Linked DNA regions of Homo sapiens. The protein of the gene in region 1 purifies or fractionates together with the protein of each later gene. This does not show direct contact. Each region holds a gene or a part of one and is shown in the gene's direction. Other genes may lie near its edges.

The links.
Region 2: the proteins of SLC17A3 (region 1) and DNAJB4 purify together in Homo sapiens (affinity purification with mass spectrometry; one large-scale study listed by BioGRID and IntAct). This does not show direct contact.
Region 3: the proteins of SLC17A3 (region 1) and AMFR purify together in Homo sapiens (affinity purification with mass spectrometry; one large-scale study listed by BioGRID and IntAct). This does not show direct contact.
Region 4: the proteins of SLC17A3 (region 1) and ESYT1 purify together in Homo sapiens (affinity purification with mass spectrometry; one large-scale study listed by BioGRID and IntAct). This does not show direct contact.
Region 5: the proteins of SLC17A3 (region 1) and VPS13A purify together in Homo sapiens (affinity purification with mass spectrometry; one large-scale study listed by BioGRID and IntAct). This does not show direct contact.
Region 6: the proteins of SLC17A3 (region 1) and CYP20A1 purify together in Homo sapiens (affinity purification with mass spectrometry; one large-scale study listed by BioGRID and IntAct). This does not show direct contact.
Region 7: the proteins of SLC17A3 (region 1) and FAF2 purify together in Homo sapiens (affinity purification with mass spectrometry; one large-scale study listed by BioGRID and IntAct). This does not show direct contact.

What each region holds. Positions count from the first base shown.
Region 1 is NC_000006.12:25,871,028-25,876,008, reverse strand, and holds the start of SLC17A3 (sodium-dependent phosphate transport protein 4), read left to right. Parts: upstream 1-1,765; 5' UTR 1,766-1,842; intron 1,843-4,981.
Region 2 is NC_000001.11:78,007,939-78,011,438, forward strand, and holds part of DNAJB4 (dnaJ homolog subfamily B member 4), read left to right. Parts: intron 1-3,500. UniProt on the Homo sapiens protein: Probable chaperone. Stimulates ATP hydrolysis and the folding of unfolded proteins mediated by HSPA1A/B (in vitro).
Region 3 is NC_000016.10:56,408,546-56,412,045, reverse strand, and holds part of AMFR (E3 ubiquitin-protein ligase AMFR), read left to right. Parts: intron 1-2,457; coding exon 2,458-2,622; intron 2,623-3,500. UniProt on the Homo sapiens protein: E3 ubiquitin-protein ligase that mediates the polyubiquitination of lysine and cysteine residues on target proteins, such as CD3D, CYP3A4, CFTR, INSIG1, SOAT2/ACAT2 and APOB for proteasomal degradation.
Region 4 is NC_000012.12:56,134,407-56,138,658, forward strand, and holds part of ESYT1 (extended synaptotagmin-1), read left to right. Parts: coding exon 1-22; intron 23-2,337; coding exon 2,338-2,487; intron 2,488-2,811; coding exon 2,812-2,967; intron 2,968-3,092; coding exon 3,093-3,269; intron 3,270-3,425; coding exon 3,426-3,508; intron 3,509-3,619; coding exon 3,620-3,668; intron 3,669-3,776; coding exon 3,777-3,866; intron 3,867-3,997; coding exon 3,998-4,093; intron 4,094-4,252. UniProt on the Homo sapiens protein: Binds calcium (via the C2 domains) and translocates to sites of contact between the endoplasmic reticulum and the cell membrane in response to increased cytosolic calcium levels.
Region 5 is NC_000009.12:77,183,684-77,187,935, forward strand, and holds part of VPS13A (intermembrane lipid transfer protein VPS13A), read left to right. Parts: intron 1-4,252. UniProt on the Homo sapiens protein: Mediates the transfer of lipids between membranes at organelle contact sites. Binds phospholipids. Required for the formation or stabilization of ER-mitochondria contact sites which enable transfer of lipids between the ER and mitochondria.
Region 6 is NC_000002.12:203,290,740-203,294,991, forward strand, and holds part of CYP20A1 (cytochrome P450 20A1), read left to right. Parts: intron 1-1,522; coding exon 1,523-1,587; intron 1,588-4,252.
Region 7 is NC_000005.10:176,489,525-176,493,776, forward strand, and holds part of FAF2 (FAS-associated factor 2), read left to right. Parts: intron 1-2,669; coding exon 2,670-2,808; intron 2,809-4,252. UniProt on the Homo sapiens protein: Plays an important role in endoplasmic reticulum-associated degradation (ERAD) that mediates ubiquitin-dependent degradation of misfolded endoplasmic reticulum proteins.

The sequences.
Region 1 (4,981 bases):
TCTTATTCAAAAGGAAAATGTAAAATTCTTTTTTTAAAAGAGATGGATATTACAACCTAAGTCAAGGAAATATCTCAATTCATATTCAAGTGTTTAATCATAGAGGTGAAGAAAAGCTGAATTGTTATTCTTTCTACACAGAGACAATTTGGGTCTATTTCTACCAAGTCAAACCAAGTAGCATGTAAAGAACTCAGGAGCACTTTAAATAAAGTTAAACATTAAATTGCAAAACCAAGTAACGTTTTCTGACTTGGATAATTCAGGGTCAGAAACATTTCCTGTGATATGTGAATCCCAAAGTTGATCATTATTTATCCCAGGGTCCAGAGTCCTTCAGAAATGACTCAGGGAAAAATCTTTTACCTAGAAAGGTGAAATTGACACTACCCCCACACGATAACGGGCTTAAATTTTCCATACTTAAATTCTTAAAGTGCAGATGGAAGAAATCTGTTTTTTTTCTTTTATGTTATAAAGAATATAATAAAACTTACCTGAAAGCATTGTGAGGATGACATGTAATAAATGCGCAGTAAATGGTAGCTCTGACTCCCCAGGACCCGGGTTCCTCCTTCTGAATTCTTGATCTGTGATATATACTGCCAGGCTCCCACTTCTCAGCCAGGGTGTTGAGAGGTAGTTTACTCACTCTCCTCTCACAATACAGTTCAAATAGGTATAAAGAGTCAAACTTAGAATCTAAAGGAGATCTCCTCAGGGCCATAAAGTAAGAAGGGATTTAAAGTCAAAGTGATGAGTATGAGCTAAGGCCAGGAAAGCCATTAAAGCACAGAACAAGGTGTAAATTTCCATGGCTGACTCTAATGCTCATATAAAGAAAGGAGTCTGGATTATGAACCCAAGGCATTCAGAGAGCTGGAAATAAACTACAGAAAGCTAGGAGTCTGAAGGCTTTGCCTCATCTATGAGACAAGGACAAGCAGAACTATACACATTCTTGGAAAGCAGTGACAGTGCTTTTGACTTCCTGGGTGTTAGCGCAAGAGTTAACCACAAGAAACTGAAAGAGTTTGGCCTTCACTGTGCACATGTAGGTATGCCAAATTTATGCCACTTATTTTCCAAAGTGGTTACAGAATGGCCCATAAATGCTACATGATAGCATGTGTGCAAATTTAGAAATAATACAAAGCATTATTACATATAGTTTGTGAATACTCATATAAATAGTAAGAATAGAAAAAAATGGAGAAATCATATTATATTTATGCCAGGCTTGTTTGGTTTGGTTTGGTTTGGTTTGCTGAGAAAAGGACAAGGACCCAGGGAAAGAGAAAGCAACAGAGTGAATGAAGTTCAAGTTTACCCATAATATTACAATTCACATATTTCAAAGAAGAAAAAAATTAACAAAATTTCAATTAAGGGGGAAAATCAAAAATAGCAAAGTAAAAAACACAAAAATACTGAACTCTTTAATTATAATTTATCTCTTTTTAACCTTTTCAAAAAAGACTAAAGACATTGAAGACACCACAAAGCAAAGCAAAATAGCTATATGCAAGTGTCTGAACCAGAGGACACCTATGAGGTCCTGAGGAGACACTCACAAGGGGAAGGTGGAGAAGCTTACATCAGCCAAAAAGCAGAAAGAACTGCAGAGGGGATTGGGCTGGATTTCCGAATGCTTCTTCAAAGCCTATTTGGCAAGAAGCCCTTCTGAGTCAACTTTGTAGTTTGATGACTTTTATTAATGATTAGCAACTTAAGCCCTAGGGTGGCAAAGAATCCTCATCTCTCTGCTCCAAAAAGTCCAAGGGAGTAAGCTTGGAGGAAACGCTGGGTTCAACTTGAAGCCCTTCCACAGACATTAAGTCGGTAAGTCACTTCTCTTGGTATTGAGATGAAGACCTCCAAAACTCTTTTCTGTATAGCAATGGACAATTTTTATATACTCCCCAACCCCAAGTTTCCTCATATGATAAAAATAAAAATGAAAAATGTAAAAATCCATATTAACAAGACTGACAAAAGTGAGGGAGAAGTGGCAGGAAGCTGAAGCTTTGTATCTGATCATCCATATGCTTTGAAACTAGCTAGTGGAGACAGTAGCAGCTATGGAAGATAATTCCAAGAAATAGGCACTCTTGCGAGGTGTTTAAAAGCAAAATTTTGCAGGTCAAACTGGCTTCTGAACAAATATCATCTCTTTCATTTACCAACTGGGTGACCTGGAGGAAGAGGGTCAGTAATATCTCCATCTGGGATTGATGTAGACTGGCTGGTGCAGTAATTTATAAGAGTGGCAATAATAATTATTTCTATTATACCAATGGCTAGGGTGGCTCTGGTCCAAGAAAGCATCTGGAGAAATGCTGCATCAAGATCCAGTGAGTTGGTGTGAAATTTAACCAAACTAAAATGGCTAGGGATAGAAGAGGAAATGGAGAGATGAGGCAATGGGACAGTCACCAGAGTCAGCAGAAGATGGTAGGTGGGCTGAGGGCAGTGGGAAGGAGGGAATCAGGGAGTCCTCAAGGCCAGAATGGAGAAGGTACAACTTTTTGTGGCAGCTGCAACTTCACAGATGTGTGGGAAGATGCTGTTAGAACACTCCCTGCCTTTAAACTAACCATCTCTACTGAAAGCTGATCCTCAATGTGGTTCTCTATGAACACTGCTTTGGACCAGAAACTTCTCAGAGTGCAATATATAGTTTCTGACCCAGATAACCAGCATAGCTTTTTAGTGGAAAATAAAGAGAGCTGTTAAAACAAAAGGGATTTACTTGAGTAAAGCCAAGGTGTAGACAGGCTATAAGACTGATTGGAAGGGCACATTTAAGAGAAGATAATGAGAGTGCATTTTCTATGTTGTGCTACTTGAGCCTGTTCTTGGCTCACCTGTGGGTGCCTTGGGATTTCCCTCTAGATTACTTCTCTTTCCTCTAGTTATAGCCCCAGGGTGTGGGAAGGGTCAGCAGAGCTTGAATCCAGCTTTTTAAGTCAGTGAAATGTTTTGAGGTTACCATGGCAGTAGGTGTCTGTCATGGTGAGGTGGGTAGACCACACCTGCTGGCAGGAGAAGATGTGACATCCTGGTTCACTTAGAGATAGGGTGTTGGTACAAGCTGTGTGCAGGTGGTAGACTGTCATGTGAAACCTTAGATAGCTTTAAAAAGTATTAATATTTTCAAAAGTCAGGAGACAAATGGGAAGATCGGTATGGAATCAGGGGACGTTGACCTGTCTGTGGAGACTGGAGATGATACTGATGAATAGAGGCAGTGGCAATGCAGATGCAGGGCTGGGTATGAAGGATGTCATCTTAGCAAGAGTACCCATGCTTTGCAGAAGAGGTCACATCATTGCAAAGGAAATCAGTGGGAAGTGAAGTCTGACTCATGTTTCAGGGTTTTCATGCCTGAAAAGCATTCATTATATATATAAATATATATATATGTATAAAATATACATATATATAGTAATGAATGTAGTATACATACTACATATCTATTTCTATATGTTTATGTAAGTGTGTGTCTTTGTGTCTTTGTGGATATAGATATGTAGTGTGTATACATACAAACACACCCACACACACAGACACACACACTTAGATGAACATTGTTTGATAAATTTCTTAAGCCCAAGAAGTCCATAAAACAATAAATTAAGCCCAAATTTGTAGCCTTTGCCTTTTTTTTTTTTTTTTTGGCGTTAAAGCTCGTATTATGGCCAATTCCAAGCTACCATCATGACATTACTGAATTCAGAGTTGGGGAGAGATGTGCAATAGCACATCTTTATACAGTATTCCCACCATATAGATACAAGAGATGTAAAAAACCTCAAGAGTGGAGCTTACAATAAAATGCCATGAAATAATTATGAAGTCATAAAGTTAAAATAATACCTTTTAAAAATATAATTAATTGAACTCTAAATTCATATCATTTAATGGATAATGGCTATGTTCAACAACTAGCTTGAAAAATTTCTAAAAACATTAATAATGAGCTCTTTTGGCCCCAAGTGAGTTGGTTCCAGTACATCATTGCCCTACTGTGCACTATTCTTTCTGAGAATAGTTTTAATTCCCTGCCTTAATTCAGGTTCTTCCATGCCTTTATCTATTTACATAATTTTTCCCTCTGATATAACTTACCATACTTGGATATGTCTGTTTGGTTGTTTCATTTCTCTTTTTAGGATCTTCATTTAACCTTAGAAACAAAAAGCCAACCATCCTTCCCATCAAGAAGTTATTGAATTTCTTGGATTGAGACAACAGTCAGATGCCACGTAGCCCTCATCTAAGTTATCTAAGGAAGGGGAAACTAAGAACTTGTTCCAACATCAATAATTCAGAGAACCCAGAGTCTTTTTTTTATTTTTTAATTTTTTTATTACACTTTAAGTTTTAGGGTACATGTGCACAATGTGCAGGTTTGTTACATATGTATACATGTGCCATGTTGGTGTGCTGCACCCATTAACTCATCATTTAACATTAGGTATATCTCCTAATGCTATCCCTCCCCCGCCCCCACCCCACAACAGGCCCTGGTGTGTGATGTTCCCCTTCCTGTGTCCATGTGTTCTCACTGTTCAATTCCCACCTATGAGTGAGAACATGCAGTGTTTGGTTTTTTGTCCTTGCGATATTTTGCTGAGAATGATGGTTTCCAGCTTCATCCATGTCCCTACAAAGGACATGAACTCATCATTTTTTATGGCTGCATAGTATTCCATGGTGTATATGTGCCACATTTTCTTAATCCAGTCTGTCATTGTTGGACATTTGGGTTGGTTCCAAGTCTTTGCTATTGTGAATAGTGCCACAATAAACATTCGTGTACATGTGTCTTTATAGCAGCATGTTTTATAATCCTTTGGGTATATCCCCAGTAATGGGATGGCTGGGTCAAATGGTATTTCTAGTTCTAGATCCCTGAGGAATCGCCACACTGACTTCCACAATGGTTGAACTAGTTTACAGTCCCACCAACAGTGTA
Region 2 (3,500 bases), on another chromosome or scaffold:
AAACTGAAAAGTATGTAAGTTGCATATGCTAAATTTATGTATTTAGGAGTGAAAGAACCAGTAATCCAGAACACAGTATATTTGTGTTCTGAATATTCACAATTTAAAATGCTTTGTTTTAAAAACAGTTGGCTAGCTGGGTGAGGTGGCATATGCCTGTAGTCTCAGCTAATAGGGAGGCTGAGGCTGAAGGATTGCTTGAGCCCAAGAGTTTGAGTCCAGCCTTTGCAACATAGCAAGACCCTACCTCTAGAAAAAGCAAAGGAAAGAAAAAAAATACGGATAACTCAAATTTACTTTTAGGAATCTATAAAAGGGAAACAAAAACATGTCCACACAAAGACATGTACCTGAATGCTTATAGCAGCATTATTTATAATAGCCCCAAACTGGAAACAATCTGAAAGCACCATAAATTGGTGAATTAAACAAAATGTGCTATATACATTCAATGAGGAACTATTTAGCAATAAAAGGACCAATTTGTGAAACATGCTACACCATTGATGAACCTCAGAAACTATGCTAAATTAAAGAAGCCAGATGTAAAAGACTATATATTGTATGATTTTATTTATGTGAAATGTCTGGAAAAGGCCAGTATATAGAAAAAGAAAGCAGATCTTTCTTGCCTAGGACTTGAGGTGGGAGCGGGGATTAGCTACAAATAAGAACTAGAGAATTCTTTGGAATGATGGAAATGTTCTATAACTGGATTGTGATGATGGTTATACAGCTCTATCAATTTACTATAATCAATTGAATTGTATTTGTACAATAGGTTAATTTTATATATGTAATAAATCTTTTTAAAAATAAAATTTCTCTATAGTTGAATCATTTGAAAACAAAAACCACAGAACTACAGAAATTTAAAATTGGATTCTGAACCACTCTCTAAAGTTTTAGGTTTAGTCTTGAATAGTTTAGTGGATGTCAACAAAAATTTGTGTTAAGAGATTTAAAAGAAAAGATTTTCAATAACACATCCTCATTTATTCTAGTTTTCTAATTTTTCTTTTTTTATGCTTTCCTTATTTTGTTATTGCATATGATTTATTCAGTAACTTCAAATATTAAAAGGTAGTGTTTAAATGATAAAACTTGTATTTATTAATCTTTATACTAGTTCTCTTCTGTTCTTTAACTTATATATTTAGCTAGCTGGATTTTTTTTAATTCACTGTGTGTTCTAAAAACATGTAAGTAAATTTGATTTTTGTGAATTAAAACTGTTTAAAAAATCTCAGAATCTCATTATTTGATAACTGAAGTCTTGCTGTAAATCTGGATTTTTACATATTAGATCTCCTTGGATGGAGTAAGAGTTATTAAAGTATTATCATGTTTTTTTCTTTGCAATCTGAATTTTTCTCCAGTGTTTCTTCTTTTGGAAACTTTTAGTCAACCTTAACTAATTAGTGGGAATCATTGTTATAGATAGTATTCCAAACACATATTTGGTTTGGGACTGCAAACTGGTTGACTGGTTAGTTGTAAAATAATAGCAGTCTTGCTAAATCATAGGCAAATGTTGCTTCTCTGGTGCGTTTTTTGATCACACAAAGTGATGACGATGTCTAGAAAACATTTTGAATAGCAGAGGGAATCCAATTGGATATTAAACATTTCCATTAGCGTTCAAAATGTACATGATTAAGAACTGACCATATAGTTAATGTGACATTACTTATAATTTTATGTGCTAGACAATGCAAGTGATACTTGCATAATAATGTATATTAAAGTGGCATGAATTTTGGTAGGATTTTTTTCTTTTTTTTGTTGTTTTTGAGACAGAATCAGTCTCCTGAGTAGCTGGGATTACAGGCGTGCGCCACCACGCCTGGCTAATTTTTGTATTTTTAGTAGAGACGAGGTTTCACCATGTTGGTCAGGCTGATCTCGAACTCCAGACCTCATGCTCCACCCACCTTGGCCTCCCAAAGTTCTGGGATTATAGGTGTGAGCCACTGTGCCCAGCCTAGGATTTTTTTCATTCATTAGAGTAGCTTCGTTCTTTGTCTGAGCTGCATAGTTGACTGTTTAATAGTGTCTAGGAAAACCTCAAAGCTGCATTGGAGTCTTTTTATCAGCTTTGGTAAGTTACTTCAGACTTTGTATGAATCTTCTCAGAGACTTTGTAATTATGACCGAATTGCCCTTTTTGGCAGAGGAGGAAGAGGTTTTCCAGAAAGCCAAACCCATGATGTAATAAATTAAAACATTATTCTTTCTTTTCATGAATTCATTATGGGTGCAAGTATTTAAATTTTGTCTTATAAGAGGCTAGATTGGGCAGGCTGATTTACCCAGTTTACTTAACTCAGTTAAATAATTATACTCCCTTAAGTCTATGGGATGAAGGATAAAATTATTTAAATAATTTAAGCATTGGTTGAGTCACTTTGGTCATGACCTTGAGCTACATATTATTCTATCATTAAAAAAAAAATCTGCCATTACCTTTTTAACATTTGGAGTTATAATTATACTACTAAAATTTATAAAAGGGAAATTTGGATGAGCTGCTTATGAAAAGATCTTGTCCTGCTTATACTTGTCATTCTACAAGGAATTTCCCTAACTGCTATTTGGATATATTGTTCAATACATATTTTGGCAATTTTCAGATTATTAGGTCTCTCTTGATCTCTCCAGATTTCTATTCATGGATGAAGGTAAAAATTTTAGATATCACTTGAGACCCTGTTAGATGAAATAGAGTAGATATATACCTTTTAATGGAAGAAGCCAAATGCAGAATAAGACGTAAGCAAAACTAAGTTTCTTTAAAGTATGCTGTGTGTTAGTGGCATTTTAAATTGTTAAATCTCTCATATATGTATATGTGTGATTATATTTTACATTGTTTTTGCTTCTGCCTTTTTCTCTGTACCGATACTCAAGACACCTTTTTTAGTTTTGATTTAGAAGGACTTTAGGAATTAGTTCATTCCCTTCATTCACTAAGCATGAATACCTACCATTTTCAGCCCTGTATGCATGAGCAGTGCAAAATAAATATATTTCCTGCCTTCAAATCACTCACTGTTTGGAGATATTAGAATCTCCTAGCTTAATCTGTTGGATTTTTCATAGTTTTATGATTTTTAGATTCTTTTCCTGCTTGTTTCTTGATCTGTATTGACCCCTTAAAAGATCACCATACTGTTGTTTTTTGAGTTTTAGTAGAACATTTCTTTCATAGTGGAAAATGTTGTTTCAAATATAATCTTTTGTGGGTTAAATATTACTTAGTGGAACCCTTAAGCAAAGGGTCAAAAAGTCACTATATTGTTGCCTGAGGTGGACTGTTCACAAGAGACAGAAATAACCCATATAGAGGCCTTACGTGTCAAAGTTTACAGCTCTTGATTTCAGTCTTCTTACAAGCATTGAAATTAATGCTAAGATGTGATATGCCTAAAAAATTTGGTATCTAGAGTAGGAATGACAATCGTAGTGTCTAAAAAACCATTTTTCATAGAATGTCCTCA
Region 3 (3,500 bases), on another chromosome or scaffold:
TTTCACATATATTATGTATAATTCCCCCAACAATTCTATGAGGTATATGCTGTTATTATAAGACCTATTGTATGGATGAGGAAACTAAAGCACAGGGATGTTAAGTGACTTTCCCAAGGTCACACAGAAACTAAATGGCAGAGCCAAGTGGCAGTGTCATTCAAAACCAGGGCACAAAATGTCCTAAGTTCACCTTGTACTTTCCCTGCACCAGGTCTGGAAACAGACATTTCACCAACGATTCCTAGTTCACGTTATTGGGCAATGATATTTAGAAGCCAAGCTGTATACTGGCTGAGTGTGCTCATTACCACTAGGGTGTCTCTGCCCTTTTGATGGATAGAATTAGGGCATACTCTATGATTTTTTTCCACTTTATTTTGTTCTCTACAAAAGATATCTGGTCAGAGTACAGTGTGTTTAAGTTCTCAAAATCTTTAAGGAGTCACGTTGTTAATTTGTAGTATATTTTGCTTTTTTGTGTTTATTTTTTGAATTTGTGAAACATTTACATGGTTCCAAATTACATATAAAAGCATTCTTTTGGGAGACCAAGGTGGGATCACTTGAGCCCAGGAGTTTGCGACCAGCCTTAGCAACAGAGGGAGGCCCCATCTCTGCAAAATATAAATATAAAAAACATTAGCCGGGCATGATGTCATGTGCCTGTAATCCCAGCTACTCAGAAGGCTGAGGTGGGAGGATCGCTTGAGCGCAGGAGTTTGGGGCTGCAGTGAGCTACTACTGGGCCACTGCACTCCAGCCAGGATGACAGAGTGAGACTCTGTCTCTTTAAAAAAAAAAAAAAAAGTATACTTAGAATCATGCTTCCATTCTTATCCTCTTCAGTCAGTTCTCCCTGACCCCCCTAGACGGCTTGATAGTCTATTTTAACATGTGGGGGAACTAGACCCTCCTTATTGCTCTCCTATTTCAGGGTTAGTGAAGATTGTTAAAACTGGAAGCCCTCTGTGTAAAAGAGTACAGTGAAGCAAATATGCATACACACTGCCCATGGGAATGTACACTTACAGGACTGCTTTGGAAGTTAGGTAGATTTTACTATAAACCATAAAAATCTTTGCAATTTTTGATTTGACAGTGCTGAAGTAACTCATACAAAGATACATACAAAAATATTCATCACAATTTTTTTTTTTTTTTGAGACAGAGTCTTGCTCTGTTGCCCAGGCTGGAGTGCAGTGGCATGATCATGGCTCCCTGCAACCTCGACCTCCCAGGTTCAAGCAATTCTAATGCCTCAGCCTCCCAAGTAGCTGGGATTACAGGCTTGTGCCACCATGCTCAGCTAATTTTTGTATTTTTAGTAGAGACAGGATTTTGCCATGTTACCCAGGCTGGTCTCGAACTCCTGGGCTCAAGTGATCCGCCTGCCCTGGCCACCCAAAATGCTGGGATTTCGTGCATGAGCCACCACGCCCGGCCCTCATTATAATGTTTTTTTTGCGTGGTGAAAATTTTAAAACAGTTTCAGTGTCCATCTTTAGCCATTGAAACGGTATATTGGTATATTCAGAGAATATTCATTGACATTGTTAAGGTTCTAACAATACAATAGGTGAAAGAAAGCATTGTACAAAAAGTAATGTGTTTTGTACATAGGGAAAAGACAAGAAAATTCATAAAAATGTTAAGGCAGCATTTTTCATTTTCTTTGTACTTTTTATGCCGCCTTTATTATGGGCTGGCAAGTGGTTGTGTTGTGTTATTTTTTAATTTGAAGAATTTTTTTTACAAAGTCTAATCTTTTCTATTGTGTAAGAATCTGGAAGGTAGAAGTAGTAAAAATGATAGCCCTTGCCATTCTTTTTCATTGTGCATTAAAAATGTAAGCATTTTTTTCTTTTTTTTGAGAGAAGGTCTTGCTCTGTCACCCAGGCTGGAGTGCAGTGGCATGATGATGGCTCACTGTAGCCTTGACCTCCTGGGCTCAAGCAATCCTCCCACCTTAGCCTCCTGAGTAGGTGGGACTACAGGTGTGCACCACCATTCCCAGCTAATTTTTGTATTTTTTTTTTTGGTAGAGATGGGGTTTCCCCATGTTACCGAGGCTCATCTCAAACTCTTGAGCTCAAGCTGTCTACCCACCTCAGCCTCCAAAAGTGCTGGGGTTACAGATATGAGCCACTGCGCCTGGCCTATTTCTTAATATATAAGTTACTAAACTAATATCGCTATCCTTTGAATAGCTAACATTCCATAATTGATTTAGGGTTATAGTCCAAAGTTTACAGATTAGTTTCTGGGTGTCTTACCTCCATTCTTCAGATGGCTGCTTTTTTTTTTTTTTTTTTTTTTTCTGTTTTCTTGAGGACAAGTATTAGAAAGCCAAGTGCAGAATATATCTTCCATAGAAGCCGGCTTTTGTTATGGTAACTTCCCTCAAATGGGGTAGGTGTGATGGTACTCACCTTCATAAACATTTTTCTTTTTTAGCATCTCAAAGACAAATTTTGGAATTTTATTTTCTACAAGTTCATTTTCATCTTTGGTGTGCTGAATGTCCAGACAGTGGAAGAGGTGGTCATGTGGTGCCTCTGGTTTGCCGGACTTGTCTTTCTGCACCTGATGGTTCAGCTCTGCAAGGATCGATTTGAATATGTGAGTTTTTAGCCAAGCTTTTTGCTTGCTTAGTCACCACGTTTGCCAACTTTGAATTGTGTAATGTGAATGAGCCACAGCAGGCATGGTCAGGGTAGCTCTTCTGGGAAGACTTCTAGATCAGGCCCCCATTGCCTGTTTCTTGAAGAACTTTCTACAGCAGCCAAGAGATGCAGAATCGTTGTCTCCTGGGGAGCTTTCTTCCCAACCCCATAGTGTTTACTTACTGCTAACATGGGGTCACTTCACCTATGCAGACTGTTTTGTTCACAGTGCAAGGAAACCTTGATACATAAACAATAAAATCTGGTCTTTTCTAGATATTTTCTGTTCTAGTCTCCTTCTGTCTCTCCCAGCTTACTCTGGTTCGTGGAGCTCTTCTTTCTGAGTAGTTTATACTATTTCCACCCCGGGCCAGGACTGAATTAGCTCCCTCAGCTTCCTTGTTTGCGAAGTGAATCATTTTATGTCTGGTACAAGATCTGTCACTTGGTTTCAGATCATAGCTGTATGAGTGAACCTTCAACCCATTAGTGACCTGAAGTAGTCTCATGAGTCCCAGATAAATGTGCATCTACAGTGCTGCCCCTCAGTTAAACCCGCTCCAGGGCCTTGTTTTTCCCTGTCTTTACCCAGTCCACATGGACCTTGCACCTTGGTTTGAGTTAATCTCACTCTCACAGCCTTTATTTCTTTCACATTCAACCCTCATTTGAAGTCACAAACAGGAGCTTCTAACCTCCCAAACTGTTTTTTTTAATCTCCGCCTGTGACCTCAGGAGTTGCAGCTCTAGGCCTTCTTTTCAGACTGTTGCCTCTCCTTGCATAATGCTGACATCACGTTGTAGTAGTGGTAAACCTGTGCCTGGATTGCATTT
Region 4 (4,252 bases), on another chromosome or scaffold:
AAGCCAGGAGCTCGATGTGCAAGTGAGATAATCACCTCTTCATCCCCTCCCGAATACCCTATTCTGACTTCCCAGATCTGTACCATTTCTCCTCTCCTTCTTTTCCCTTGATTCCTATTTTTAATCCATCTACCTAGACTCCCCACCTCCCTGAATATCTCTCCATTGTTCCCCAACTGTCGCTCCAGAATAATATTTTTTTTTTTTTTTGAGATGGAGTCTCGCTCTGTTGCCCAGGCTGGGGTGCAGTGGTGCGATCTCGGCTTACCGAAACCTCCACCACCTGGGTTCAAGCAATTCTCCTGCCTCAGCCTCCCGAGTAGCTGGGATTACAGGCAGGCACCACCATGCCCGGCTAATTTTTGTATTTTTAGTAGAGACAGGGTTTCACCATGCTGGCCAGGCTGGTCTCGAACTCCTGACCTCAGATGATCCGCCTGCCTCAGCCTCCCAAAGTGCTGGGATTATAGGCATGAGCCACTGCACCTGGCCTTAGTTCATAGGTACTTGTTCTTGAATGATTTTATATATGTGTGTCTTGTCTATGAAACTGGCCAGTAAGCATTGTGAAAGCAGATGCTATGTTTCGTGCTTTCTCCATGACCTTTAAAATGCTGAATGTTAACAATTTTATTGAGGCATAATTTACATACCATAGAATCACTCATTTTAGGTATACAAAAATTATTCTGAGGCTGGGCACGGTACCTAAAATGAGTGATTTTATGGTATGTAAATTATGCCTCAATAAAATTGCTAACATTCAGCATTTTTTTTTTTTGAGACAGTTTCGCTTTTGTTGCCCAGGCTGGAGTGCAATGGCGTGGTCTCGGCTCACCGCAACCTCCACCTCCTGGGTTCAAGTGATTCTCCTGCCTCAGCCTCCTGAGTAGCTGGGATTACAGGGATGTGCCACCATGCCTGGCTAATTTTTTTTGTATTTTTAGTAGAGACGGGGTTTCTCCATGTTGGTCAGGCTGGTCTCGAACTCCCAACCTCAGGTGATCCGCCCGTCTCAGCCTCCCAAAGTGCTTGGATTACAGGCGTGAGCCACCGTGCCCGGCCCAACATTCAGCATTTTAAAGGTCATAGAAAAAGCACAAAACATAGTATCTGCCTTCACAATACTCACTGGCCAGTTTCAGTTTCATAGACAAGACATACACATATAAAATCATTCAAGAACAAGTACATATGAACTAAGGCCAGGCATGGTGGCTCACACCTGTAATCCTAGCACTTTGGGAGGCCAAGGCAGGTGGATCACCTGAGGTCAGGAGTTTGAGAATAGCCTGGTCAGCATGGTGAAACCCTATCTCTACTAAAAATACAAAAATTAGCCAGGCATGGTGGTGCGTGCCTGTAATCCCAGCTACTTGGGAGGCTGAGGTAGAATTGCTTGAGTCCGGGAGGCGGAGGTTGCAGTGAGCCAAGATAGCGTCACTGCACTCCAGCCTGGGTGACAGAGTGAGACTCCGTCTCAAAAAAAAAAAAAAAATCAAAAATTTGCCAGGTGTGGTGGCATGTGTCAGTAATCCCAGCTACTTGGGAGGCTGAGGCAGAAGAATCATTTGAACCCGGGAGGTAGAAGTTGTAGTGAGCTGATTTCAAGCACTGCACTCTAGCCTGGGTGACAGAGCAAGACTCTGTCTCCAAAAAAAAAAAAAAAAAAAAAAGGAACAGAAGAATAGCAACAATTACATATGAATTTGTGGGAGTAAAATATCCATAGTATAGGACTAAGGAGGGTCAGAGAAAGGGATAGGCTGGAGTAACTAGGGAGATTTTGTGAAGCAAAAAATTGGATTTTAATTGAGTCTTGAAGGATGAGTAGGATTTAAATAGGCCGAGGGAAGAGAATGAGGACTTTCCAAATAGTGGGAGCAGAATGAACAAAGGTGGAAGGGGCCATGGATTGGGCAGAGGACTATAAAAGATGGCTCTGGCCGAGGTGGGCGGATTGCCTGAGCTCAGGAGTTTGAGACCAGCCTGGGGAACACCATGAAACCCTGTCTCTACTAAAAAATACAAAAATTTAGCTGGGCGTGACGGCATGCGCCTGTAGTCCCAGCTATTTGGGAGGCTGAGGTAGGAGAATGGGTTGAACCCAGGAGGTCGAAGTTGCAGTGAGCCAAGATGGCGCCATTGCACTCCAGCATGGGCGACAGAGTGAGACTCTGTCTCAAAAAAAAAAAAAAAAAAAAGATGGCCCTGAGTGGAGCAGGAGGTTTGTGATTGGTACAGAGAGGAATGAAGTTGGAGCCATGTTATCATTTTCACAGTATGCCTCCCTTTCCCCTAATCCCTTCACTACAGTCCTTCCTCCTGTGCCTGTAGGTGAAGGATGATTCCAGGGCCCTGACTTTAGGAGCACTGACGCTGCCTCTGGCCCGCCTGCTGACTGCCCCAGAACTCATCCTGGACCAGTGGTTCCAGCTCAGCAGCTCTGGTCCAAACTCCAGACTCTATATGAAACTAGTCATGAGGGTATGGAAATAGAGGAGGTACTGAGGTGTGGGGGAAAGGCCTGTTGATTCTTTGGTATTAAGAGTAAGGAAAGGGACCCCCCTAAGATTAAAAGAGCTAATACATGTAGAAGTGCCAAGCAGGCACAAAAACATATATTGATCTGACTGGTGGAAGGAATGGCTTATGAGTTGAGGGGGTGTGGAGGGAACCCTGTAGAGATGAGCCCAGCCAGGGCAGCACCTAGTTCCCCTGTCACAGCCCCTCCTCTACCCCACCCCACATGCTTTGCCTGCTGGTGACGAGCTGCACTTCTTTGATTCAGCATCATACTACCCTTCCTAGATCCTGTACTTGGATTCATCAGAAATATGCTTCCCCACGGTGCCTGGTTGTCCTGGTGCTTGGGACGTGGACAGTGAGAATCCCCAGAGAGGCAGCAGTGTGGATGCCCCACCTCGACCCTGTCACACGACTCCTGATAGCCAGTTTGGGACTGAGGTGAGTCTATATCTGGAAAGGACTAGGGTCTGTTTGCCCCGCTAAGTATGCAAAGCCTGTTTCAGGGCAGATTCTGACAGGTCTCTCTCCCTTTGCCATCTGGCACCCCCCCGTCCCTTTTGCAGCATGTGCTTCGGATCCATGTATTAGAGGCCCAGGACCTGATTGCCAAAGACCGTTTCTTGGGGGGACTGGTGAAGGGCAAGTCAGACCCCTATGTCAAACTAAAGTTGGCAGGACGAAGCTTCCGGAGCCATGTTGTTCGGGAAGATCTCAATCCCCGCTGGAATGAGGTTTTTGAGGTCAGAATTGAGTGGCTGTGACTCCTGGTTCTGCCCCATTTTTCCCCCAATCCCAAAAGTGGTCCAGAAACCTCTGAGGTTCAGTTGACTGGGGGGTCCAGTCATTTGCAGAGGAAAAGGAGAGAATCTTTCATCTGCACTATTTTCTCCCACTAGGTGATCGTCACATCAGTTCCAGGCCAAGAGCTAGAGGTTGAAGTCTTTGACAAGGACTTGGACAAGGATGATTTTCTGGGCAGGTGAGAGCATAGGAGTCTACGTGAAAAACAGGCTGGGGCTCTTTAGGCCATGGAGTCTGGCCTCCTTGGTTCTCACCATCTAGCTTTTGTCTTAATCTTTCTCTTCAACAGGTGTAAAGTGCGTCTCACCACAGTCTTAAACAGTGGCTTCCTTGATGAGGTGAGCATTGAATTAGAGTCAACAACCCCTCCTGATCCTGCCCAAGCTTCATTCTCAAAGTTCTCCTGTCTGCATATCCCCAAGTCTTCACCCTGCCTACTTCCACAGTGGCTGACCCTGGAGGATGTCCCATCTGGCCGCCTGCACTTGCGCCTGGAGCGTCTCACCCCCCGTCCCACTGCTGCTGAGTTAGAGGAGGTAGGGCAGGAGACTTGAGGAAGGAAGGGACCCAAGGTGGGGCAGGATGAGCTCTTCTCTTAGCGTTCAAGGCACATGCCAGAACCCAAGGTGTCAGTTACCACTCCCCAGCCCCGTGTGCCCCTCCACAGGTGCTGCAGGTGAATAGTTTGATCCAGACTCAGAAGAGTGCGGAGCTGGCTGCGGCCCTGCTATCCATCTATATGGAGCGGGCAGAGGACCTCCCGGTGAGATCCCGCTCCCCATGCCCCATAACTTCCTGGCCCTTCTTCCACCTTCCTCCGGTTTGGATGGTCCTGGAGTATTTAGAATAAGAAAAATGGCCCCTCTCTTTCTGAGGGTAGTGCAGGGGTGGGAAAAGTTGTCTGTTCAAGGCCACGGGTAGT
Region 5 (4,252 bases), on another chromosome or scaffold:
AAGTTAAACATACATCAACCATGTTATCAAGCCATTGTGCTTCTACATGTTTACCCAAGAGAAATGAAAGCATATGTTCATACAAAGATTTGCACACAGATGTGCATAGCAGCTTTATTTTTAATAGCCCCAAATGGGAAACAGTCCAAGTATCCACCAACAGGTGAATGGATAAACAAACTGGCATATCCATATAATGGAATACCATTAATATTTAACCACACATGTTTTGTCACATACCTGTCCATCTGTCCATCTCTCTATCCATGCAGCAATTCATATTATTAAATGTATTTCAGAATAAGTTGTAGAGATGAGCTCATTTCCTCCTAAATACTTCAGCATGTGTATCATTAGAGTGCAATATTTGCTTAGTTTTTTTCCTTTTGAGGTAAAATTTATGTAGAAGAAAATATACAAATCTTAAGTGTACATTGACTGAGTTTTGACAAATACATACACACATGTAACTCAAACCCAGTCAAGATATAGAACATGACCATCACCCCAGAAAGTCTTTTTCCTGACCTTTCCTAATTTATTCCTACCCTCATCTTCAGAGGCAACAAATACTCTAATTTTTTTCTTTCTGTCATACATACACATCTATTCTGCTTTGCTGAGAGTGTTTTCTTTTCCTTCAAGAATGTTGGAGCCAGGCATGATGGCTCATGCCTGTAATTTTAGCACTTTGGGAAGCTGAGGTGGCCAGATCAGTTGAGGCCAGGAGTTCGAGCCCAGCCTGGCCAACATGGTGAGACCCTGTCTCTACTAAAAATACAAAAATTAGCTGGGTGTGGTGGCGGGCACCTGTAGTCCCAGCTACTTGGGAGGCTGAGACACGAGAATCGCTTGAACATGGGAGGCGGAGGTTGCAGTGAGCCGAGATCGTGCTACTGCACTCCAGCCTAGGTGACAGAGCAAGACTCCGTCTCAAAAAAACAAAAACAAAAGAATGCTGGATTTTGTCAAATGTTTTTTTCTGCATCTATTACTATTATCACAGGATTTTTTTCTTTTTTAATCTGTTGGTGTGATACATTACATTAATTGATCTTTGAATGTTGAACTAGCCTTGCATACCTAGAATAAATCCCATTTGGTCATGACGTGTATGTTTAGCACTCAGTATCTCCAGGGGTTTAGTTCCAAGACCTGTGCAGATACCAAAGTCCACAACAGGGAGGGCATGGAAGCTCCCCACCACCTTACTTTGCTCTGTCCATCTCTTTATCTGTATCCTTTGTAATATCCTTTATGATAAACTGTTAAATATAAGTATTTCCCTGAGTTTTGTGAGTTATCCCAGCAAATTATCAAACCAAATAAAATCAGGTGCGAACCCTGATTTATAGCTGGTCAATCAGAAGCACAGATCACAGCCTGCGACTTGTGACTGACATCTGAAGTGAGGGGCAGTCTTATGGAACTGAGCCCTTACCATGTGGGATATGACATTATCTCTTTTTTTTTTTTTGAGACAGAGTCTCGCTCTGTCGCCAGGCTGGAGTGCGGTGGCGCAATTTTGGCTCACTGCAACCTCCGCCTCCCGGGTTCAAGTGATTCTCCTGCCTCAGCCTCCCGAGTAGCTGGGACTACAGGCGCCTGTCACCACACCAGGCTACTTTTTGTATTTTTAGTAGAGACGGAGTTTCACCATGTTGACCAGGATGGTCTTGATCTCTTGACCTTGTGATCCACCTGCCTTGGCCTCCCAAAGTGCTGGGATTACAGGCGTGAGCTACTGCGCCCGGCTCGATATGACACCCTTTCTAGGTAGATAGTGTCATTATTTAATTGAATTATAGTTAGTGTCTGTTGGAGAATTGTTTAGGGATTGGGGGAAAAACTTCACATATCTGGTTATCTAAGGGTTCTGTGTCGAATATGAGAGTAGAGAGAAAAACCTTTATTTTCCTTTGACAGTGTCTTATCATATTTATAGCTGTTTTCTGTTTTGTTATACTTGTTTCCTTTTTAAACAGTCTTCCCCTCCTCTTTTGCCCTCTCTGGTTTTAATTGATCATGTGATATGATTTAATTTTTTTCTCCTGTCTTAGCATACCAATTATGCTTCTTAAACAATTTATTTAAGTGGTTGTATTACAGTTTGTGCTGTTCACTTAAAACTAGTCCAAGTCCACGTCCAAATAACATTATAGGTCAGGTATAGTGGCTCACGCCTGTAATTCCAGCATTTTGGGGGACTGAGGCTGGCGGATCATTTAAGGTTAAGAGTACGAGACCTGCCTGGTCAACATGGTGAAACCCCATCTCTACTAGAAATACAAAAAATTTGCTGAGCATGGTAATGTGCGCCTGTAGTCTCAGCTACTCAGGAGGCTGAGGTATGAGAATCTCTTGAACTGGGAGGCAGTGAGCCGAGATTGTGCCACTTCACTCTAGCCTGGGCGACAGTGCGAAACTCTGTCTCAAAAAACACAAAAACAAAAATCCCACTATACTACTTCATGGAAAATGGAGGTAGTATATGTAATACTCTATCTTACAATACAGTATACAGATTCCTCCCTTCTGCCCATTGTAACATTGTTGTCATTAATTTCACTTACCTATAAGCTGTAATAATCCAATGCATTGCTGCTATTAGTATTTTAGACATTTTTCTATTAATTTAAGAATAAGGAAGAAAAGACTTAATTTACCTTCATCTCTTAATTCTCTAATGCTCCTGTGAATCTGAGTTTTTGGTTTAAATCATTTTCCTTCTTTCTGAAGAACTCCTTTATTTATTTGTTTTTTTTAATTTTTGAGATGGAGTCCTGCTGTGTTGCCCAGCCTGGAGTGCAGTGGCGCAGTCTCTGCTTACTGCAACCTCTGCCTCCTGGGTTCAAGCGATTCTCCTGCCTCAGCCTCCTAAGTAGCTGGGACTACAGATGCATGCCACCATGCCCAGCTAATTTTTGTATTTTTAGTAGAAATGGGGTTTCACTATGTTGACCAGAATGGTCTTGATCTCTTGACCTAGTAATCTGCCCGCCTCGGCCTCCCAAAGTGCTGGGATTACAGGTGTGACCCACCACACCCGGCCTATCTTAACCATTTTAAGTGTACACTTCATGTCATTAAGTACACTTACATTGTGCAACCATCACCACCATTCATCTCCTGACTTCACCATTATTCATCTCCTGAATTCTTCATCTTGCAAAACTGAACCACTTACCCGTTAAGCAATGACTACCCATTCCACCGTCTTCCCAGACCCCAGTAACCGTTATTCTACTTTTGATGTCTGTAAATTCGAATACTTGAAGTATAAGTGGAATTATACAGTATTTGCCATTTGTTATTGGTTTCTTTTACTTGGCATAATGTCCTCAAGGTGCATCCGTGTTGTAGGAAATGTCAGCATTTCAATAATTTTTCAAGCTAAATAGTATCCCATTGTATGTATATACTGCATTTTGTTTCTCCATTCATCTGTTGATGAATAGTTGGGCAGCTTCCACCTTTTGGCTGTTGTGAATAATGGTGTTATGAATGTGGATATTTTTCTTTGAAGTTCAGTCTGTGCTGTCAGATTTTTGGGTTACATACCCAGAAGCAGAATTACTGGATCATATAGTAATTCCATTATCAATTTTTTTGAGGAATTATCATACTACTTTCTATAGTGACTGCACCATTTTACATTCCTACCAACAGTGTACAAAGGTCACCATTTCTCCACATCCTCACCAACATTTATTTTCTCTTTTTTTGATAGTAGTTATCCTAATGGATATGAGGTGGTATCTTGTAGTTTTCATTTACATTTCTCTAATTAGTAATGTTGAACATCTTTTCATGGGCTTATTGACCATTTGTATATCTTAATTGGAGAAACATCTATTTAAGTCCTTTGTCCATCTTTTAATCAGGTTGTTTGTTTTTTGAGTTGTAAGAGTTTACATACAAACATACACACACACACACACACACACACACAATGTTAGCTGCTTATCAGATATATGATTTGCAAATATTTCCCATTTTGTGTGTTACCTTTTCTTCCTTTTTTTCCCTGCTAACTTTTATTTTAGGTTCATGGGGTACATGTGTGGGTTTGTTGTGTGGGTTAATTGTGTGTCACTGGGGTTTGATGTATAAATTATTTTGTCACCCAGGTAGAGAGCATAGTACCCGATAGATAGTTTTTTGATCCTCACCCTCCCCACACCCTCCACCCTCAAGTAGGCCTTGGTGTTTGTTGTTTCCTTCTTTGTGTCCATGTGTACTGGATAGAGTT
Region 6 (4,252 bases), on another chromosome or scaffold:
TCAAGTGATTCTCCTGCCTCAGCCTCCTGAGTAGCTGGGATTACAGGCTTGTGCCACAAGGCCTGGCTGATTTTTATATTTTTAGTAGAGATGGGGTTTCACCATGTTGGCCAGGCTGGTCTCGAACTCTTGGCCTCAAGTGATCCACCTGCCTCCACCTCTCAACATGCTGGGATTACAGGCATGAGCCACCATGCCCATCTAGCATAATTTATTTAAGCAGCCCCCGCTAGTGGAAATTATGATTGACATTATTTTTTTTAATTATATACTGGTACAGGTGTTGAGTAGAGTCTGAGACACGGAGTTTTTGTGTCAAAGTCCATGTATATGTTCAGTTATTATTATTTTTAGACAGGGTCTTGCTCTGTTACCTAGGCTGGAGTGCAGTGGTGTGATTGCAGCCTCGACCTCCCAGGCTTAAGTGATCCTGCCACCTCAGCTTCCCAAGTAGCTGGACTAAATTTTTTTATTTTTTATAAAGACAGAGTCTCACTATGTTGTCCAGGCTGATATGGAACTCCTGGGCTCAAGTGATCCTCCTACCTCAGCCTCCCAAAGTGGTGAGATTATAGGCATTAGCCACTGCACTGGGCCATGTGTACGTTAAATTTAAAATGTTCTCTAAAAGGCATTTTATACTTCTAGCAACAATGTATGAGAATGTTTTTTCTTTCCAAATCCTCACTGCCTCTGAATTTGAGTCTTATGTATATTTTATGAATCTTGCTTTTCTCTGATCATTGGAGAGATAGAACAAATTTTCATACATATATTAACAGTTTGTGTTTTTCTTTTGTTAATTCTGTCTTTATAACTTTCACTCATTTTTCTAGTGAGCTTATATATATTTGTATATTATACAAATTCTGTCAATTATATAGCAAATAACTTTTACTGTTGCTTACATTTTTTTTTGTTATTGTTTTTTAACTGGATGCAGATTTTTTTTTTATACTTTAAGTTTTAGGGTACATGTGTACAACGTGCAGGTTTGTTACATATGTATACATGTGCCATGTTGGTGTGCTGCACCCATTAACTCGACATTTAACATTAGGTATATCTCCTAATGCTATCCCTCCCCGCTCCCTCCACGCCACAACAGGCCCCGGTGTGTGATGTTCCCCTTCTTGTGTCCATGTGTTCTCATTGTTCACTTCCCACCTATGAGTGAGAACATGCGGTGTTTGGTTTTTTGTCCTTGCGATAGTTTGCTGAGAATGATGGTTTCCAGCTTCATCCATGTCCCTACAAAGGACATGAACTCTGGATGCAGATTTTAAATTTTCATGTAGTTAAGTCTGTTATTCCTTTATGGTTTCTAGATTTTGTGACATGCTTAGGGAGGCCTTCCTCATTGTAAGATCACCAAAATAATCACTTGTGGTTTCTTGCATTATTTTTAAATTATTATTTTGTATTCAATATCTATATTAAAAGAAGTTTGGAATAAGTTGACTTTCTAGGAGTCATTTTATCTCTGTTAGTCCTTGACTAATTGGATTTTTTTTTTTCACAGACCCTCGTCCTTTATGCCCTTGGTGTGGTACTTCAGGATCCTAATACTTGGCCATCTCCACACAAGTATGAAATATTTGTCATTGTATTTGTGACTGTCAGTTTTTGTGTTTGCACGTTTTGCATTCCTTTCCTAACTGTTGAGTAGAAAACTCAATATGTAGCAATGATACAACAAAAGAAAACTAGTGAATCCCCTTTTCTTCTCTTTCTTTTGAGACAGGGTCTCACTCTGTCATCCAGGCTGGAATGTAATAGTGCAATCACTTCTCACTGCAGCTTCGACCTCTCTGACTCAAGCCATCCTTCTGCGTCAGCCACCTAAGTAGCTAGGACCACAGGCGCGTGCTGCCACGCCTGGTTCATTTTTGTACTTTTTGTACAGATGGGGTTTCACCATGTTGCCCAGGCTGGTCTTGAACTCCTGAGCTCAAGCCATCCTCCCACCTCTGCCTCCCAAAGTGGTGGGATTACAGGCATGAACCACCAAGCCTGACCTGCATCCCCATTATATCTTCTGTTGACTGCTTTTTCTCTTATGTGAATCTGCTATTTGCTACTCTTTGTCTCTTTTATTACCACTTTTATACTAAGTGAAAAGTAATTAACATCTGTTTTAAGAAAATTAAAGCAGGCCGGGCACCGTGGCTCATGCCTGTAATCCCAGCACTTTGGGAGGCTGAGGCGGGCGGATCACAAGGTCATGAGTTCAAGACCAGCCTGGCTAACATAGCGAAACCCTGTCTCTAATAAAAATACAAAAATTAGCTGGGCATGGTGGCGCATGCCTGTAATGCCAGCTACTCGGGAGGCTGAGGCAGGAGAATCACTTGAACCTGGGAGGCAGAGGTTGCAGTGAGCCAAGATCATGCCATTGCACTCCAGCCTGGGCAACAAGAGCAAGACACAAGACTCCGTCTCAAAAAAAATTTTTAAAAAAGCAGAATTTCTCTCTCTTTTTTTTTTTTTTTTTGAGATGGAGTCTCGCTCTGTCGCCCAGGCTGGAGTGCAGTGGTATGATCTAGTGTCACTGCAAGCTCCGCCTCCCAGGTTCAAATAATTCTCCTGCCTCAGCCGCCTCAGTAGCTGGGACTACAGGCACCCGCCACCACGCCCAGCTAATTTTGTGTAGTTTTAGTAGAGACAGGGTTTCACCATGTTAGCCAGGATGGTCTCGATCTCCTGACCTCATGATCCACCCGCCTCAGCCTCCCAAAGTGCAGGATTACAGCCACTGCGCCCGGCCTCTTTTTTTTTTTTTTCCCCAGTGCATTTTTCTGTTCTTTATTGCTTCTCTTTTTGCTTTTTTTAAATTTATTTTTTATTTCAATAGGTTTTTGGGGAACAGGTGGTATTTCTTTGGTGGTGATTTCTGAGATTTTGGTGCAACCGTCACCCAAGCAGTGTACACTGTACCCAATGTGTAGTCTTCTATCCCTCATCGCCCCACCGTTTCCCCCAAGTCCCTAAAGTCCATTGTATCATTCTTATGTCTTTACGTCCTCATACCTTAGCTCCCAAGAATTTCCCTTTTTTAAAAATTCAGAGTTTAAGTCGTTTAAAAATACTTGTTTTTGCAAGGAATTTTTTTGTTCTGTGGTACGTGGGTTATTTGTTTTGTTTTTAATATATGCATTTCTTCAATGACTTTACAGAGTGAAATTCTATAGAACAAAAAATGTTTCTTAGGCCCTTCATTTCCCTGACTTTATTTTTTATTTTTATTGTTTCTTTAGGGACAGAGACAGGGTCATGCTCTGTCACCCAGGCTGGAGTGCAGTGATGTAAACACAGGCTCACTGCAGCCTCAACCTCCTGGGCTCAAGTAATGCTCCTACCTCACCCTCCAGAGTAACTGGAACTATAGGTATACGCTACCATGCCTGGCTAATTTTTTTTAATTTTTAATTTATTTTTATTTTTATTTTTTTCGAGACAGAATCTCGCTCTATTGCCAGGCTGGTCTTGGAATAAGCAAGACGCCAACTATGAAAAATAATGGGCTGGGCACAATAACCTGTAATCCCAGCACTTTGGGAGGCCGAGGCGGGCAGATCACCTGAGGTCGGGGGTTTGAGACCAGCCTGACCAACATGGAGAAACCCCTTCTCTACTAAAAATGCAAAATTAGCCAGGTGTGGTGGCGCATGCCTGTAATCCCAGCTACTCGGGAGGCTGAGGCAGGAGAGGTGGAGGTTGCAGTGAGCCGAGGTCATGTCATTGCACCCCAGCCTGGGCAACAAGAATGAAACTCCATCTCAAAAAAATAAAAAATAAAATAAAAAATAATGATAATAATCACACATATATAGAGTACGCTTTTCATTCGCTTTAATCCAGATACCCTCCTAGAATTCAGTGGCTTAAGAGAAGCAACGTGTATCTTTTTTTTTTGGACGGAGTCTCAATCTGTTGCCAGGCTGGAGTGCAGTGGTGCAATCTTGGCTCACTGCAACCTCCGCCTCCCGGGTTCAAGCGATTCTCCTGCCTCAGCCTCCCAAGTAGCTGAGACTACAGGCATGCACCACCACGCCCAGCTAATTTTTATGTTTTTAGTAGAGACGGGGTTTCACCATGTTGCCCAGGATGGTCTCAATCTTTTGACCTCGTGATCACCTGCCTCTGCTTCCCAAAGTGCTGGGATTACAGCCTTGAGCCACTGTGCCCAGCCTTTAAAAAAATTTTTTTTTTTTTTTTTTTTTTTTTTTTTGAGACAGAGTCTCACTCTGTC
Region 7 (4,252 bases), on another chromosome or scaffold:
TTTCTTTCTTTTTCTTTCTTTTTTTGAAACAGAGTCTTGCTCTGTCGCTGTCACCCAGGCTAGAGTGCAGTGCCACCATCTCGACTCACTGCAACCTTCACCTCCTGGGTTCAAGCGATTCTCATACCTCAGCCTCCCAGATAGCTGGGATTACAAGCATGCGCCACCACGCCTGGCTAATTTTTGTATTTTTAGTAGAGACAGTAGAGATGGAGTCTCATTTTGTTGGCCAGGCTGATCTTGAGCTCCCGGCCTCAAGTGATCCACCTGCCTTGGCCTCCCGAAGTGCTGGGATTGCTGGCATGAGCCACCATGCCTGGCAGCTTCGGTACCTTTTCACTTTGCTCTGGCAGCCCCTAGGTTGCAAACACTGGAACCCTTTTATGTATATACCCACTTGCTTCATACCTTCACCTTTCTTCTAGCTTCCTTCATGTACCATTAAAAGAGCTCATCATTGGAAGCTACAGAGGGTCCAAGGCCAGAAAATGAGTGGGGCTCAACTGGCCGGGCTCTGTGGCTCACGCCTGTAATCCCAGCACTTTGGGAGGCTGAGGTGGGCGGATCACAACGTCAGGAGATCAAGACCATCCTGGCTAATACGGTGAAACCCTGTCTCTACTAAAAATACAAAAAATTAGCCGGGCGCGGTGGCTGGTGCCTGTAGTCCCAACTACTCAGGAGGCTGAGGCAGGAGAATGGCGTGAACCCGGGAGGCGGAGCTTGCAGTGAGCCTAGATCGCACCACTGCACTCCAGCCTGGGTGAGAGAGTGGGACTCCGTCTCAAAAAAAAAAAAAAGAAAAAGAAAAGAAAATGAGTGGGGCACAACTTCTTAGCATGTCAGGCTTGGGTTATCTGGTCCAGAGCCATGTCTAGGCTTTATGGGGAACTTAAATGTTCAAGGGCATCCAGGCCAGCAGATGGAGCTGGGATATGTAGTCTGGGCCTTCCCTGGAAGTACAGGTTCCCTGTACTTCCCTTCAAATATGGGACAGCCTTTACCCTGCCTCTAGGGAGCAGAGGCTGAAGTTGTGGGTCCAGCAGCTGCATAAGTACAAGGGTCAGATAGTACCTTTTATATTGGACCCTTGGTGTTTTATGAGGCTGTCTACTTAATGGCTTTCTTGGTTTAGCAACATTCTTCATGATCACTAATTGCTTAGTACTCTTTCCATCCCCATTTTATTTAAGAATGAACATGTAAAAATCTTTAAAATCATAATGAAAACTAAGTTGACATCTCTGTTTTTTTCTAAAAAATCAAAAAAGCTGATTGTCCTAAATTGTGTAGATCGTGGGAATATTGTGTAATGAGGAAAAAAAAATAAAGGCTTTAAGAGAGAATTCTAAAATGCTTAATTTCAAAGAAAGTAGTTAAAACATCAGTCTTCTGATGAATTTCTAACCATTCCCCCACGTATACAACTTACTACATTTTGTGCTTTTAATTCGCTCTGGAACGTTGTTGTCAATGAATTTGGTTTGATTACTCGGGAGAAATTCCAAGTAGAATTGTATACACAGGGGGAATTTGTTGGGATAATGAATTGACTCACTTTTTGTTAAGGAAAAGTATCACAGTTTAATCACCTTGTCTGTGCTGAAAACGTTTTAAGTAAATGAATATTGTTTGCTTTTCTAGGGAAAATATGCACGGCATGTATTACTAATTTTAATGCAGCTGTATCATCCAACCAGCTTGTTTAATGTTAGGTAACACATTATCCTCTGTCCTGTTGCCTTCTCTGGAAACCCAAAGGATAAATAAATGGTACTATACAAATAGGGTAGGCCCTTTAGAAACAGATGTGTGGTACCATTAGGTATGTATTCTTCACTTTACAAGAGCTGCCAGTACTCCACATCTGCCAGGGTACTGTGGAGCAGTTTTATAACTTCCTCCATGGTTGCCATCAACCATAAATCATCAAGCAAAAGGTACTTGCCCCTTTGAAGAGCAAGTAAGTCATAACCGCAACTTCAGATTTGAAGTTCCTATCCGTAAGTTGAATAGTTTGGGGTTGTGAACTCAATATTTAAAATCCCAGGAAAACAGAAAGGAGAAGGAGGGGCAAGTAGGACAACCAGAAAATGACCTCTGTTCTAGAGCACTGTCCAGTAGAACTCTCTGTGATGATAGAAACGTTCTGTATCTCCGCTGTTCAGTATGAAAGCCATTAAACACGTGGCTGTTGAGCACTTGAAATGTGGCTAGCATTACTAAGGAACTGAATTTTAATTGTATGTAATAGATTTAAATTCAGAATAGCCACATTTGACTAGTGGCTACAGTACTTAGACGGTGCCATTCTAGAGAGTCTGGGTGCATAGCCTGACACATGATCTTTTTGGATACTGTGTCTTCCCTTCCAAACCCTTCTAGCCCTAAATTGTTCTACAAAAAATACTCAGGATTTATGTAGGCCAGTGTTGGAATTTATAATCCCAGTAGTTTGCATTCTTCCTGAACAGGCAATAGAATAACACTTGCTGCTTTATGGCTTTTGAACCAGACTCTACTCTCGGATTTGATGGTCCACTCACAGACTGTTCACCTCCCTTTGTTGCCGTGCCTCTGGCTCTGTTACAGGAATCTGTACAAATTGGCCCACTCGATATGCACTGTAGTAAGCTGGATTCATGTGATATTTATTCCTTCCTCCCCAGGTTTGCTCTTCGTTTTATACGGCCTGACCCTCGCAGCCGGGTCACTGACCCCGTTGGGGACATTGTTTCATTTATGCACTCTTTTGAAGAGAAATATGGGAGGGCACACCCTGTCTTCTACCAGGGAACGTACAGCCAGGTCAGTGCCATAAACCATATAGATGCCAACTTACCGAAATGATTCTATCCTCAAAGGAGAGCACAGCCCAGCACTGATCATGTCCTTCTTGTACTCAAAAACCTTAATTAGCTCTTCACTGCTTATAGGGGTGGGTAATAAAAAAGACCAAACCTTTTAGCTGGCCCCTCTTTGATCTAATGCTGCCCTTCTTTTGAGGTCTTTTCTGCATAACTTATTTTACCATACCCTCAGTTCCAGCTGACTCATTCCCTGAACATAGTCTGTACTTGCCTACCTCTGTGCCTTTGCTTTTGCCGGTCCATCCACGTGGAATGCCTTCCTCACATTTTTGCTAATTGGAATCTTGCCAGTCCTTCAACTAGATTATGTCACGCCCCACTTACAGCTATCCCTGATTGTTGTGCCCTGTCCTGCCCTATCTCATCATCTAGAATACTAATCTTTCCCTTTGTTCTTCCATAGCTTTTAAAAATTGATAGCAATTTTATATTCTTTCCTATATCATTTGTGTTCGTGTCTAATCTCTGCTACCAGACTGAAAGCCCCTTGAAGGCAAAGCCTACATCTTCTTTGATCTCTCACAGAATTGAATAAGGACATAGACCATAGACTCAGGGTAGCACATCTCATTCAACCTCAGCCATGTAGACCTTTGACTCAAGACCTCACCATTCAGGGGAGGAAAAATTAGAGTTCTGTGGGTGTTTGGTATATCTCTAGTTTGCCAGAGAAATACATAGAATTAACACTACAGGAATAGGGAAAACTATGGGAATGCTGTGGCAATAGGCAAAAGGGGGTTCTATTATGCAGCCTCCAGAATTCCTGAATCTATCTGGAGAAAGAAAAATGCTCACCCTTGCTTCCTGCTTTCATTTTCCCACATCTGCTTTTTATCATAGTCAGTCTCCTCGCTGGCTGTTCCCACCACACTCAACAAAAACTGAGCACCTACTGTATGCCAGGCAATGTCCTCAGTGCTAGAGATACAGAGATGAGTGAGATGAGCACCTCCTGTGTACCCTCTCTGCTATGATCCTGAGGGTAGACCACCCTTGACCATGTCAGCAGTCGTACAGTGTAATGTGCTCAGGAGCACGCACATGCAGGAGCACGCACAGGAGTCTTCGGCGCTAGCCTTGTCTTTGAAAGTCTTTTACACCCTATGCTCTTTAGAATGCCTTTGGATCGTACAGTCCATCATTCCTACTCGATATGTGGCCTGGGATCAGGGTTGTCTTCGCAGTTATTTTTTACTTACAAGGATGTTGTAGCTGTGAAGTAGAAAAATTCTCACCTCCCTTTCATATGGTCAGATTCTCCTGTTTTTATCTTCCTTAGACTGTGGGTGCAGCTGACTTTTCTGTGGTTTGTTGGGAACCTGTGTTTGTAAGCCTGTCTACTCTCATGTGTCTGTTAAGTTTGAATCCTAACAACACTA